Linked DNA regions of Homo sapiens. The protein of the gene in region 2 interacts with the protein of the main gene of each other region in a biochemical or structural test. Each region holds a gene or a part of one and is shown on either strand. Other genes may lie near its edges.

What was found. The genes of interacting proteins can lie anywhere in the genome.
Region 1: the proteins of MYO18A (region 2) and GOLPH3 form a complex in vitro, tested with the Homo sapiens proteins (2 studies listed by IntAct).

The regions. Positions count from the first base shown.
Region 1 is NC_000005.10:32,171,297-32,178,351, forward strand, and holds the start of GOLPH3 (Golgi phosphoprotein 3), read right to left. Parts: upstream 3,024-7,055; 5' UTR 2,739-3,023; coding exon 2,514-2,738; intron 1-2,513. UniProt on the Homo sapiens protein: Phosphatidylinositol-4-phosphate-binding protein that links Golgi membranes to the cytoskeleton and may participate in the tensile force required for vesicle budding from the Golgi.
Region 2 is NC_000017.11:29,170,397-29,177,419, reverse strand, and holds part of MYO18A (unconventional myosin-XVIIIa), read left to right. Parts: intron 1-646; exon of another isoform or gene 647-848; intron 849-7,023.

The sequences.
Region 1 (7,055 bases), on a different chromosome or scaffold from region 2:
AAAAAAAATTTCATAATGTTTTAAGAAAATTTACCAATTTATGTTGGGCCGCATTTAAAGCCATCCTGGGCCACATTTGGCCCGCGGGTTGGAAAAGCTTGATTTAGAGTAACATGTACTTGAAAAAACAAATAGGTATTTCCTCACTATAATTTCTCAGTGTGACTCAGAACACCAAAAGCTTATTTTTTAGTTTTTTTTTTTTCAGGTTTTTGTTTTCCACCGAGTTTTATCCACACGGAAAACTCTCAAAAACTATAAACCAAAATGTTCACTCAGGAATATGTTTTAATTTTGCTTTTCTTTTTTTTTGTATTTTCTAAAATGTCTATAATAATGTTATTTTTGTCCAAAAAGAAAAATGTTTATGGCCGGGCGTGGTGGCTCAAACCTGTAATCTCAGCACTTTGGGAGGCCGAGGCAAGTGGATCACTTGAGGTCAGGAGTTCAAAAGCAGCCTGACAAACATGGTGAAACCCCGTCTCTACTAAAAATAAAAACATTAGCAGGGCGTGGTGGTGCATGCCTGTAATCCCAGCTACTTGGGAGGCTGAGGCAGGAGAATCGCTTGAACCCGGGAGGGGGAGGTTGCAGTGAGCCCAGATGGCGCCACTGCACTCCAGGCCTGGGCGACAGAGCGAGATTCCGTCTAAAAAAAGAAAAAAAAAAAGACAAATGTTTATAATCAAGATTTCCAATTTTGAAACCTAAAGTTGAATATTTTCTAAAAATTACATTACTAGGACGCTATACCCCTAGTTTACTTTTTCATCCAAAGAACAAGGAACTGCACATACAGCCTGCTTTATCATCACAACTCAATAATTAAACAGGTACAGCAGCCCTTTCACAGCCAGAGGAACATCAACTTTTTTCAAGGTTACTGTTATTAAAACCTGAGAAATGGGAAACCAAGATATGGCAAATGCCCCAGACGTATCTATCAAGCTAACCGTTAGTTCATTAGATTTCTAAATAAGAAAGGTCCATAAACGGTCCATATAAAACTCGCCTATATCTAGTAAGTTTCAGTGACCAAGAAAGATTACGTTGTTTTGTAAGACTTTTTTTTTTTTTTTGCCCACCTTCCTGAATTTGGAAAACTTTCTTAAAATCAGGCCTGGGCGCGGTGGCTCAAGCTTGTAATTTCAGCACTTTGGGAGGCCGAGGCAGGCGGATCACTAGGTCAAGAGATCGAGACCATCCTGGCCAACATGGTGAAACCCCGTCTCTACTAAAGGTATGAAAATTAGCTGGGCATGGCGGCGCACGTCTGTAGTCCCGGCTACTCGGGAGGCTGAGGCAGGAAAATCGCTTGAACCCGGGAGGCGGAGTTTGCAGTGAGTGGAGATCGCGCCACTGCACTCCAGCCTGGGCGACAAACTGAGGCTCCGTCTCAAAAACAAAACAAAACAAAAACACAAAATTAGCCGGGCATGGTGGCGCATGCCTGCCTCAGGAGGCTGAGGCAGGAGAATCGCTTGAACCCGGGAGGCGGAGATTTCGGTAAGCCGAGATCGCGGCATTGCACTCCAGCCTGGGCAACAAGAGCGAAACTCCGTCTCCACATAAATAAATAATCATTTTTGTAGGCAAATATAACAAATACAGCAAAACGTCATAGAATCTAGAAAGAGTATATATGCATATGTATCTATCACTTTTTCAACTTTTCTGTGTGTGAAAATTTTGGACACTGAAGTGAAAATAAACGCTTTCAAAGTCAGAATACAAAGAATTATCTATTGCAACTTCAACCCACCTGAAGCTTTGAGGCCTCTGATCAACTCACAAACCTACATTTCAAGCACTCGATGAAAAAGCCCTTTCTTAAGACGGCAAGACTTTGAGATTCATCAACTGATAAAATATAAAAGCGATACTAAAAATAATCTCTCACCTAATGTAAGTTCACCTAGAAAGTCATTTACCAGGAGGTTTCATGAGAAACTTAACTTAACTTTACTCAGTAAAAGAGCTTTTCCCTCTATTACCACTTCGCCTACGTTTTTCGTAATTCCCAACAGTAAGCTTTAACTGAAGAAGAAGAAAAAAAAAACATCCCCAGCAAGCAGATCCGGGCACCCCTCCCAGGTCCTAAAGCCTGCAAAAACCCAAAGAGTTCGTGGCGCTGGTGGCTCCAGCTGTTAGTTTCCCGGGCAGTCTCCGGGTTGGATTTGCACCCTGGGGTCTACACGGGTTAAAAACGCGGAAAAAAGGCGACGAAGAAATACAAACTGCCAGGGTGTCGAAATGAAAGGAGCGACTGTGAAAGGGGTAAGGAAAAATCCAAGCCATCTCTACGGGGAGGATCCAGAAAGCACCAGCCGCGCCAGGGGGTCAACCAACTCCGACACCGCTCGGCGTCAGCTGGGCGCCACCAGGCGCGGACTTCGGAGCGAGGGCAGGTGCGCGGGCCGGAAGCCTCGGGCGCTCACCTGGCACCTACCTGGAGCTCACCTGGCGCCCGGGCCCCGCGCCGCCGCCCCCCGCCCAGCCCGCCGCGCCCGCACCTCGCGGTCCTTGAGGCCCAGCAGGAGCACTTCCTCCATCAGGGTCAGCCGCGTTTCCTTGGAGTCGCCCTTGTCGTCGTCGTCCTGCTCGTCGCGGCGGCTCTGCGCGTCGTCCTCGCTGCTGCCGGCGCCGCCGCCCGCCGCCCGCTCCTTGTCGGCGGCGTTGCGGGAGGCCTCGGTGCGCCGCTGCACCAGGCCGGAGCTGCGCTGGGTCAGCGAGGTCATGGCTCCCGCCGAGGCGCCGAGCCGGGCCGAGAGGGTCGCAGGACCGACCGGGTCGCCCTCCTCCTCCCCGCGCGGCCTCCGATCCGGGTTTCCGTGTTAAATCCGGACGCCGGGGCGACGTCCGTCGGCAGCAGGGCCGGGGGCAGTCATGAGGAAACAGGTCAGGGCGAAGCGGGCTGGCCGGGCGTCGGCGGGGCAGGAGAGGAGCGCCTTCCTGCCTGTGGCCGCAGTCCCCGAAACACCCCGAGCTCCAAGGCGGAGGCGGCGGCGGCGCCTTTCCAATATGGCGGCCCCGGCTGACGTCACCGGAGGATGTGGCAGAGTCGGCGCGGGAGAGCTGGGCCGGGAGGCGCCGGAAGCGGCGGCCGGGGATCCGCTGCCACTGCAGCCTACACCCTTCCCGGCCCTCGGTGCTTGTCTTTTCTTTGGCGTTCCTGCGCCCCCTGACCCGCGGTCCTGCAGTCCTGCTCCCGTGACGTGCCCTCCCTCCTTCCGTTCCCCGTTTCCCCTTCACTACCCAGGGCTGGAGCCTGAACCTGGCGGGGCCCCCCGTGAATGGAAGAGCCTGGGCCACGCGAAGGTGGACCCCACTCAGCCTCCAGCCGTGCCCTCCACGCCCCAGACACCGCCGTCTTCGGAGGCGACTCCGCGGTCGTGTGGACGGGGTCCCATTTGGACTCCGGGGTCTGCAGGATCGGCAGGAAGGACTTTGCTCTCTGCTGCTGGGCGGGGAGGGGTACGCTATCTGCCGGGACTCCCTAACCCTTTAGAAGGAGCAAGTGCGTCCAAATGGTTTGAAAGTGGACCTTTATTGTTTTCCAGGAGTAAGAAGATAGAACAGTTGACCAGTTTTGTTTGTAAAACTTCTTTCCTTGCCTCGGACTTGTGCTATAAAGTGACCAGGGCGTAGTGAGTACAGTTAGTACCGCACACGTTAGCACGCTCGACCTTAACGATCTTTTTATAGAGACAATAAACCTGCAGCGTTTCATGCCACGTCTTTGTACGCATCGGATGTCTCTCCGTGTAGTTACTAGGTGAAATCCTCTTGGCGTGCGCAAATTAGGTTAAAAAAATAGCTGTCAAACCTGAGACAGGAGTTGGAGGAGTAGAGGGTGGCGCTTGTTAAGTGAAACATTTAACCAGGAATGGTATTGTGTGCCATCCTGTATTAAACAATGTATGGACAGAGTGGAACAACAGCAAAGCAAAAAATAAAAATTTTTTAAAAAAAGTGATCATGGGCTGTGGCTAAAGAGTGCTTTAGATGGATTCTTCTCTTCCACAAATCCATTATCCAGAACTGCTGCTGCCTACCATCCCATGCCCTGGAAAGTGACAGTGCTAAATGAAGGGAAGAGAGGGTCCAGGGGGCACACCAAGTAGACCTTCCCTTTTTCCCACCTGTCTTGGTGAAGGTCGATTTCACCTCAACCAATTTCTCCCATTCACACCCTCTTTTTTTTTTTTTTTTTTTTTTTTTTGAGACGGAGTCTTGCTCTGTTGCCCAGGCTGGGGTGCAGTGGCACAATCTCGGCTCACTGCAAGCTCTGCCTCCCGGGTTCACGCCATTCTCCTGCCTCAGCCTCCTGAGTAGCTGGACTACAGGCGCCCGCCACCACGCCTGGCTAATTTTTTGTATTTTTAGTGGAGACGGGGTTTCACCGTGTTAGCCAGGATGGTCTCGATCACCTGACCTCGTGATCCGCCGGCCTTGGCCTCCCAAAGTGCTGGGATTACAGGCGTGAGCCACCGCGCCAGCCCACACCCTCTTTGGACCTTTTTTCTTCATCTTTTCTGATTTTACCAAATGTTGTAGCTTGAAATATTTCTTTGTAAAATAAATGTAATTAATTTATTATGTGAAAAAAGTTAATCAGGAGTAGTGGCCCACATCTGTAGTCCCAGGTCTTCGGGAGGCTGAGGCAGGAGAACCGCTTGAGCCCAGAATTTGAGGCTGCCATGAGGGTGATCGTGCCACTGCACACCAGCCTGAGAGACAGAGCAAGACCCTGTCTCAAAAAAAAAAAAAAAAAATTGGCTGGGCGCGTTGGCTCACGCCTGTAATCCTAGCACTTTGGAAGGCCAAGGCGGACGGATCAGGAGGTCAGGAGATCGAGACCATCCTGGCTAACACGGTGAAACCCCGTCTCTACTAAAAATACAAAAAATTAGCCGGGCGTGGTGGCGGGCCCCTGTAGTCCCAGCTACTCGGGAGGCTGAGGCAGGAGAATGGCGTGAACCCCGGAGGCGGAGCTTGCAGTGAGCAGAGATTGCGCCACTGCACTCCAGCCTGGGTGACAGAGCGAGACTCCGTCTCAAAAAAAAAAAAAAATTACTTGACTAATATAGTCAAGTATGTAGTTCAAAGAGTACAAAGATATGTGTAGTGAAAATCTCCCTCCCAGCTCTGCCCCTGTTCACCCAGTTGTTCTCCTTTCTCTCCTGAAGGTTTTAATGCCAACAAATCCTCTGATACTCCTCCCCTCAAAATGTGAAGCCTAATTTCCCTCCCCCTGAGTGTGGGCCAGACTTAGTGACTCTCTTGAAATGAATAGAATGTGGCCAACATGACTGTGTGGCACTTCTCAGGTCATGAAAGTCTATGCAGCTTTTTTCCTCCCCAGCTGCCCTCCACCCCCAGCCATCATGATGGGTGGGGGTGGAGGGCAGCTGGGGAAGAAGTGAGGGAGGAAGGAAGGAGATATTTTAAAAACAGGAAGAGGAAGAAAGGATATTTTAGGAAGGAAAAAAGAAGGAATTTTAGGAATGAGAATATTCCTAATTACAACAATGAGTGTTACTTTTTAAAAAATTTTTATTTATTTATTTATTTATTTTTGAGACAGAGTCTCATTCTGTCGCCCAGGCTGGAGTGCAGTGGCGTGATCTCGGCTCACTGCAACCTCCACCTCCAGGTTCAAGCAATTCCCCTGCCTCAGCCTGCCGAGTAGCTGGGATTACAGGCACATGCCACCACGCCCAGCTAATTTATTTATTTATTTATTTATTTATTTTTTTGAGACGGAGTTTTGTTGCCCAGGCTGGAGTGCAATGGCGCAATCTCGGCTCACCGCAACCTCTGCCTCCCAGGTTCAAGCGATTCTCCTGCCTCAGCCTCCCGAGTAACTGGGATTACAGGCATGTGTCACCACGCCTGGCTAATTTTGTATTTTTAGTAGAGACGGGGTTTCTCCATGTTGGTCAGGCTGGTCTCGAACTCCTGACCTCAGGTGATCTGCCCGCCTCGGCCTCCCAAAGTGCTGGGATTACAGGCGTGAGCCACCGCGCCTGGCACGCCCAGCTAATTTTTTTGTATTTTTAGTAGAGACGGGGTTTCACCATGTTGGCCAGACTGGTCTTGAACTCCTGACCTCAGGCAATCCAGCAGCCTCGGCCTCCCAAAGTGCCGGGATTACAGGCATGAGCCACCGCGCCTGGCCTTGATTGTTTGTTTATTGCCTGCTGAGATGTGCCAGGCGCGGTCTCCAGCAACCCCCACCAGGACCCTGCAGGTTAGGTGCTGCTGCTGTGCTGACCAGCTCCACATGGACTGCAACCATCTCATGCAGTGCGGTCTGGCAGCACCTCCATGCCTACCTACAAGTGTGGGAGAGTAAGCACTTCAAGCAGGTGGATAACAGGACCCCTTTCTTTCCTCACATGAACTGTCCTGAGATCGTTTATACAACTTCTCAGTAGCATTTAGCTCCAGCAAGCTCAACGACCCCTTCACTCCTCGCTTCCCTCCACTAGCTTCTGCTCCCAGCTGTTGCACTCCCTAATAAAGCACAAAAGACTTTGTCTTAGGCCCTGCTTCCTAGGGAACACAGATTAAGATGCCCATTTTACCTATGAAGAAACAGTTCAGAGAAGTTAAGTAATCTGCCCAACTTAACACTTCTGGAAAATCACAGACCTGGATTAGAACCCTGGTCCTTAATTCAGTATCAAACAAGTATATTTCTACATGTTTGCTGCATGCCAGGCATTGTCATAAGCAATAAAGATACAATACTAAGCCAAAAGAGACATAGCCATACTTTTCATGAAACTGACAGTTTAATGAAGGGCACAGATATTAAGCAAATCCTGATGCTAATTAATGTAGAAATGTAGAAATGCTTTGAAAGAAGGAATACAGTCCTATGAGATCATGTACTGTCATATATGTGAGAAACCTAAGTTTTTATCTGGGACTCAAAGCTGCTCTGAAGAAGTCATAAGCCAAAGAATGAACTGAAGTTAACCAAGTTGGAGGTAGAGGACATTCCTGAGAGGAAATATGCAAAGGCCCTGTAGCAAAAGACAGATCAT
Region 2 (7,023 bases):
GGCTTGTAAAATGTCAATTTCCCTTGACATTTTAAACAGTTTAGAGTCAGGCAGCAGTTTTGGTTGTTAGACTGATGATTTTACAGGACCCAGGGCCCTTTCTGTCTGCCAAGTAGTTTATCATCACTTACAAGAGATTATTGTGATTATTCTCTAATATTCAGAGAGGTTGGATGATGGGCTGAAGGTCACACAGCAAGTCAGAGGCAGAGCGGGATTACAACCTGCAGTGTGTGGTTGAGCAGAATAGCTCTCCAGCAGAGGCTGAGGGCCAAATCTGAGCTGTCAGGCCCTTGAAGATAACTGTAGCTGAAATAGTGGAGGCTTAGAGAGGGGAGGGGACTTGCTCAAGGTCACACGGAAGGGGATGTTAGCGGAACTGAGCGCCAGGCGGTGCACCTGGAAGAGCAGCAGGGAACCTGGCGAGGCCGCAGGAGCTCTCCCGCTCGCGTTCCTCCATGGCCCGCGGGATTGCTGCCTTCCGGGGGAGATGGGATCGCAGCGGGAGGCGCCGCGGGGCTGCGGCTGCGCCGGCCCAGCCGCGGGGAAACGCCAAGGGCCGCCCGGCTCCCCGCGCGGCGGCGTGAGGGCTGGCTAATGTCACGTGAGAAGCGTGCAGTCGGCGTGAGGGAGCACACCTGGAGCCAGATAAGCTCCGTGTGACCTGGCAGGGAGTCACCCGGCGCTGCGGAGCTCAGCACAGCCGGCCGGGAGGAGGCTCCCCCTGGAGCACGGGGCCAGGCCAGGTGCTGGCTACCCCTCCGGCCGCTGCTACAACCCTTGGCGAGGGGCAGAGCGCGGGGAGAGAGCCGGGGTCCCGGGGCTGGAGGAAACGGCCGCTCAGGGAGGTCAGAGGCCAAGGGAGAGAGGCCGGCTCTCTCGGGAAAGTATTTCCTTTGTATTTATTTATGAGTGTGGTCTGGGGGTGGGGGTGGGAGGACTGACCTAAGTATCTATCCACCACAGCCAACTCTGGGCACCCTTGTCTTGGGACTCTAACGTTATAGTTTCCATTTCCTGGGTTTTTTTTTTCTTTTGCCAGCTGCTAGGTGACCCATTTAAATGTGTCCCCACTTACAGCCACAAGACACCAGTGAACTCTATTTTAACCAAGTCCCCCAAGCCACTGAAACTTTTTCAAGACATGAAGGCAATCCTTAAACTGACCATTACCCTGTTTGCAGCTTTACTGCTGGTGGATTGCCTACTAGTTTGTCCATTTTTTTTTAGTCTGGAAAAAAGTTGAATCATTAGGTAGAAAGCTAAAGCGTTACTAAAGTGTTACCCTTCTTCTCCCCTACTCTCCAGAGATGACCACTGATAAATTTTTGGATCGAATTTTTCCAGACTGCTGTTTTTTTTGAGAAGGAGTCTCGCTCTGTCACCCAGGCTGGAGTGCAGTGGCGCAATCTTGGCTCACTGCAACCTCCGCCTCCGGGGTTCAAGCAATTCTCTGCCTCAGCCTCCCGAGCAGCTGGGATTACAGGCGCCCGCCACCACGCCCGGCTACTTTTTTGTATTTTTAGTAGAGACAGGGTTTCACCATCTTGGCCAGGCTGGTCTTGAACTCCTGACCTCGTCATCCACCTGCCTCGGCCTCCCAAAGTGCTGGGATTACAGGTGTGAGCCACTGCGCCTGGCCAGACTGCTTTTTAAAAGCTTGTTATATATATTTTAGGCACTATATATGTTTATAGTTTAATATATGTTTTATAAAATATCATCTTATATAAATATTTAAAAAATTTCTGTAGTAGGCCGGACACAGTGGTTCACACCTGTAATCCCAGGACTTTGGGAGGCTGAGATAGGCAGATTGCTTGAGCCCAGGAATTTGAGACCAGGCTGGGCAACATGGCAAGACCCTGTCTCTACAAAAAATACAGAAGTTAGCTGGGTGTGGTGGCGAGTGCCTGTAGTCCCAGCTACTCAGGAGGCTGCGGTGGGAAGGATCGCTTGAGTCCCAGGAGGTTGAGGCTGCAGTGAGCCGAGATCGCACCACACTCTAGCCTGGAGGACACAGTGGGACCCTGTCTCAAAAAAAAAAAAAAAAAAGATGAAATAAAAGTAGAAGAAAAATGATAGATAATTCCACTCCCTGAAGCTCCTAGGTGTAAGCAAATACACATTTACCAGATGAATGTTCTTATAAAAAATTAAAATATAGCCCGAGTGCGGTGGCCCATGCCTATAATCCAGTACTTTGGAGGCCAAGGTGGGTGGACCACTTGAAGCCAGGAGTTCAAGATCAGCCTGACCAACATGGTGAGACCCCATCTCTGTTATTTAAAAAAAAAGAAAAAAAATTAAAATATGGATGAAACACAAGTCTATTTGACCCTTCTAAAATTCCAGTCTCCTCCCCAGAGCATATATTTTTCCTACACATATGCAAATATTGTACACAACGTACATGTAATATATTCATGCACATATATAGATATAGGTTTTTAAATTTTAGCAAAATTATAAACTATCCTGCAACCTATTTTTTCACTTAACAATATAGTATAGAATCTTTCCAGGTCAGTGTATACAAATCTACTTCATTCTTTTTACTTTTAATTATACAACTGCTCAGTTGTATAATTTAGCTTTTTTTTTTGAGACAGAGTCTCGCCCTTTCGCGCAGGCTGGAGTGCTGCAATGGCGTGATCTCGGCTCACTGCAACCTCCGCTTCCTGGATTCAAGCGATTCTCCTGCCTCAGCCTCCTGAGTAGCTGGGATTACAGGTGCGCCACTACGCCGGCAAAGTTTTGTATTTTTAGTGGAGATGGGGTTTCACCATGTTGGCCAGGCTAGTCTCGAACTTCTGACCTCAAGTGATCTGCCTGCCTCAGCCTCCCAAAATGTTGGGATTACAGTTGTGAGCCACCATGCCCAGCATTTTATTTTTTTTTATTTTTTTTATTTTTTGAGACATAATCTCCCTCCACCCAGGCTGGAGCACAGTAGCACGAATCTTGGCTCATGCAGCCTTGACTTCTAGGCTCAAGTGATCCTCCCACCTCAGCCTCCCAAGTAGCTGGTATCACAGGTGTGCACCACTGCCTAGCTACTTTTAAAAAATTTTTTTGTAGAGTCAGAGTCTCACTGTGTTGTCTAGGCTGGTCTCAAACTCCTGGACTCAAGCAGTCCTCCCGCCTTGGCCTCCCAAAGTGCTGGAATTAGAGGCCTGAGCCGCTGCACCTGGCCAGTTTTACTATTCTCTAGTAAGGACTTTTATATTTATAGACTTGCTATTATAAACAATGCTGCAAGGATTAGCCATGTATATTATGTGAATGTACCTATAGATGTCTTATAATGGAATTGCCCAAAGAATATGTACATAAATATTTTCATATGCCAGGTGCAGTGGTGGTGCCTGTAATCCTAGCTACTCAGGAGGCTGAGGCAGGAGGATTGCTTGGGGCCAGGAGTTTGAGACCAGCCTGGACAGAATAGCAAGAACCTGTCTCTAAAACAATTTTTAAAAAGTTAGCCAGTAATGGTGGCGCACACCTGTAGTCACAGCTACTCAGGAGGCTAAGACAGGAGGATCACTTGAGCCCAGGAGTTCAAGTCTGTAGTGATCTATGATTGAGCCACCAAACTCCAGCCTGGGTGACAAAGCAAGACCTTGTCTCTTAAAAAAATTTTTTTTTTTCACAGATACCACTGACTTGACCTCTGAAAATACATTAGTTGGTGCAAAAGTAATTGAGGTTTTTGCCATTAAAAAGTAACGGCAGGCCGGGTGCGGTGGCTCACGCCTGTAATCCCAGCACTTTGGGAGCCGAGGCGGGCGGATCACGAGGTCAGGAGATCGAGACCATCCTGGGTAACATGGTGAAACCCCGTCTCTACTAAAAATACAAAAAATTAGCCAGGCGCGGTGGCGGGCGCCTGTAGTACCAGCTACTCGGGAGGCTGAGGCAGGAGAATGGCGTGAACCCGGGAGGCGGAGCTTGCAGTGAGCAGAGATCGTGCCACTGCACTCTGGCCTGGTGAAAGAGCAAGACTGCGTCTCAAAAAAAAAAAAAAGGGCCGGGCGCAGTGGCTCAAGCCTGTAATCCCAGCACTTTGGAAGGCCGAGGCAGGCAGATCACCTGAGGTCAGGAGTTCAAGACCAGCCTGACCAACATGGAGAAACCCCGTCTCTACTAAAAATACAAAATTAGCCGGTCATGGTGGCGCATGCCTGTAATTCCAGCTACTCAGGAGGCTGAGGCAGGAGAATTGCTTGAACCCGGGAGGCGGATTGCAGTGAGCTGAAATCGGGCCATTGCACTCCAGCCTGGGCAACAAGAGCGAAACTCCGTCTCAAAAAAAAAAAAAGTAACGGCAAAAACCATAATTACTTTTGCACCAACCTACCAATTTGTGTTTCCACCAAGACTTATGAGACTCCCTGCATCCCATGCCCTAATTGATTGATATTATCAACCTTGATAGTTTTTACTAAACTGCTAATTGAAAATAGTATACCTCAATTTCACATGTCTGTGAATGTTATGGAGGCTGAATACCTGTTCATGTTTGATGGCCATTTGTATTTCTGCCCCTACAAATTGCCTGTCCATAGTATCCTTGGCACTAGCTACGTGGGCCCTCTGGACTCAAGCCAGTGTGATCCAGCTTGGCCTTGTGCTTATCAAGTTACCTTCACTTCTTTGGGCTTTACTTTCCATGTACAAAGGTTTTGACTTATTTTAGTCATACTTGTGTACTCTGTTATCCTCTCTACTGTGTCATTTAGACTGCAAAAACTGTGCCCTGCTACTATTAGGTACCTCTCTGAGGGTAATTAAATATATTTCATTTAATTCCCCCACCTTAGGTGGTAGGTACCATTATTATCTCCATTTTTATAGATGGGGAAATGGAGGCATGGAGGCCTTAAGTGATTTGCCTGAGATTTCATAGCTATTTACTCATATTTTTTTTCATTTTTATTTAATTTTTTTTTTTTTAGACAGAGTCTTGTTCTGTCGCCCAGGCTGGAGTGCAGTGGCATGATCTCGGCTCACTGCAACCTCTGCCTCCCAGGTTTCAGCGATTCTCCTGCCTCAGCCTCCTGAGTAGCTGGGATTACAGGCGCATGCCACCATGCCCAGCTATTTTTAGTAGAGACAAGGTTTCACCGTGTTGACCAGGCTGGTTTCGAACACCTGATCTCAGGTGATCTGCCCTCCTCGGCCTTCCAAAGTGCTAGGATTACAGGCGTGAGCCATTGCGCCCGGCCCTGTTTACTCAGATTTGTTCACAGGTTTGTTACTTGATATCCAAAGCCTGAGCTCTGACACTGGGCTTACTTATCTTTATGTTGCTTGCCTTTAGGAAGTGGCTGATAGATACATATTTTTTCCCAAAATTTTATCACAATGACCTGCAAACATTCAGAAAAGTTAAAGAATTTTGCAACGAATACCCTCCATTTCCTAGATTCTACAATTAACATTTTCCTATCCTTGCTTTTACACATCTGTATCCCTTGATCCATCCATCAGGCTATGGTTTTTTTTTTTTTTCTTTCTTTCTTTTGAGACAGGGTCTTACTCTGTTACCCAGGCTGGAATGCAATGGCATGATCGTGGCTCAATGTAGCCTCGACCTCCCAGGCTCAGGTGATCTTCCCACTTTAGCCTCCCAAGTAGCTCCCACAGGCATGCACCACCACATCCAGATAATTTTTTGTATTTTGAGTAGAGACAGGGCTTTGCCATGTTGCCCAGGCTTGTCTCCGACTCCTGAGCTCAAGCGATCTGCCCGTCTCGGCCTCCCAAAGTGTTGGGATTATAGATGTGAGCCACCTTGCCCAACCTCATCAAGCTGTCTTAAAATTTTACACATCTCAAAGTAAAACGTAGACATCAGTATATTTCGCCCCAAATACTTTAACATACATATCATTCACTAGAGTTCAATATTTGTTTATAGTTCTTTTCTTTTGAGTGGATATTTACAAACAATGAATGCACAAATCTTTTTTTTTTTGAGATGGGGTCTTGCTCTGTCTCCCAGGCTAGAGTGCAGTGGCGCAATCATCTTGGCTCACTGCAACCTCCGCCTCCCAGGTTCAAGCGATTCTCCTGCCTCAGCCTCCCTAGTAGCTGGGACTACAGGTGTGTGCTGCCACGCCCGGCTAATTTTTTTTATTTTTATTAGAGACGGGGTTTCAGGATGGTCTCGATCTCTTGGCCTCATGATCCACCTGCCTTGGCCTCCCAAAGTGCTGGTATTACAGGCGTGAGCCAACGCGCCTGGCTGAACGCACAAATCTTATGTGCACCATTTGATAACTTGACAAGTGCATATACTTATCAACCCAAACCGCTATCAATATACAGGACATGAATATCACCCCAAAAAGTTCCCTCATGCGATCCCACTCCTACCCCCACCATAGGTTAGTTTTGCCTGCACTAGAACTTCATATAAAGAGAATCATACCCATATGTGCTCTTTGTCAAAGACTTCTTTCCCTCTCACTTGACATCATGATTTTGAAGTCCATCCCCATTGTGTGTATCTTTAGTTGTTTCTTTTTTCTTGCTGAGTAGTATTCCATTGCATGAATATGAGCATTGTTTATGCACTCTGATGGACAGATAGATGTATATTTGAGGTTGATGGTCATTGCCTTCGGGATGCTTACTCTCTTAAAGTGATAGAGCAGCTGAGTTGACAGATTGTACTTTCTTTTTGTTTTTGGGGATAGTAAGAGCAAGATTATTCGGGTCCATACCCTAACTTACATAGATGCCTTCCTTTTCTTAAAATTAGGAAAAACTTCTTAGAGTATGATGAGGAGAGAAACGCAGAAAAGGAGGTCAGGAAAATTATAAGGTTACCTTTACTGGAGTGGAGGGAGAGGGTAGGAGAGGAATGGGAGGCAGATGGAAACTGCAGCCCGGGATAGGGGGTAGGAAGGTAGTGGTATCAGAGCTGTTGGAGACTTTGGACCTGAGGCCAGGAGGTGCCGGAAAGTGCAAGGTCTACAAGAAGGCCATGGAGCAGCAGTCGCATTGCAGATCTGA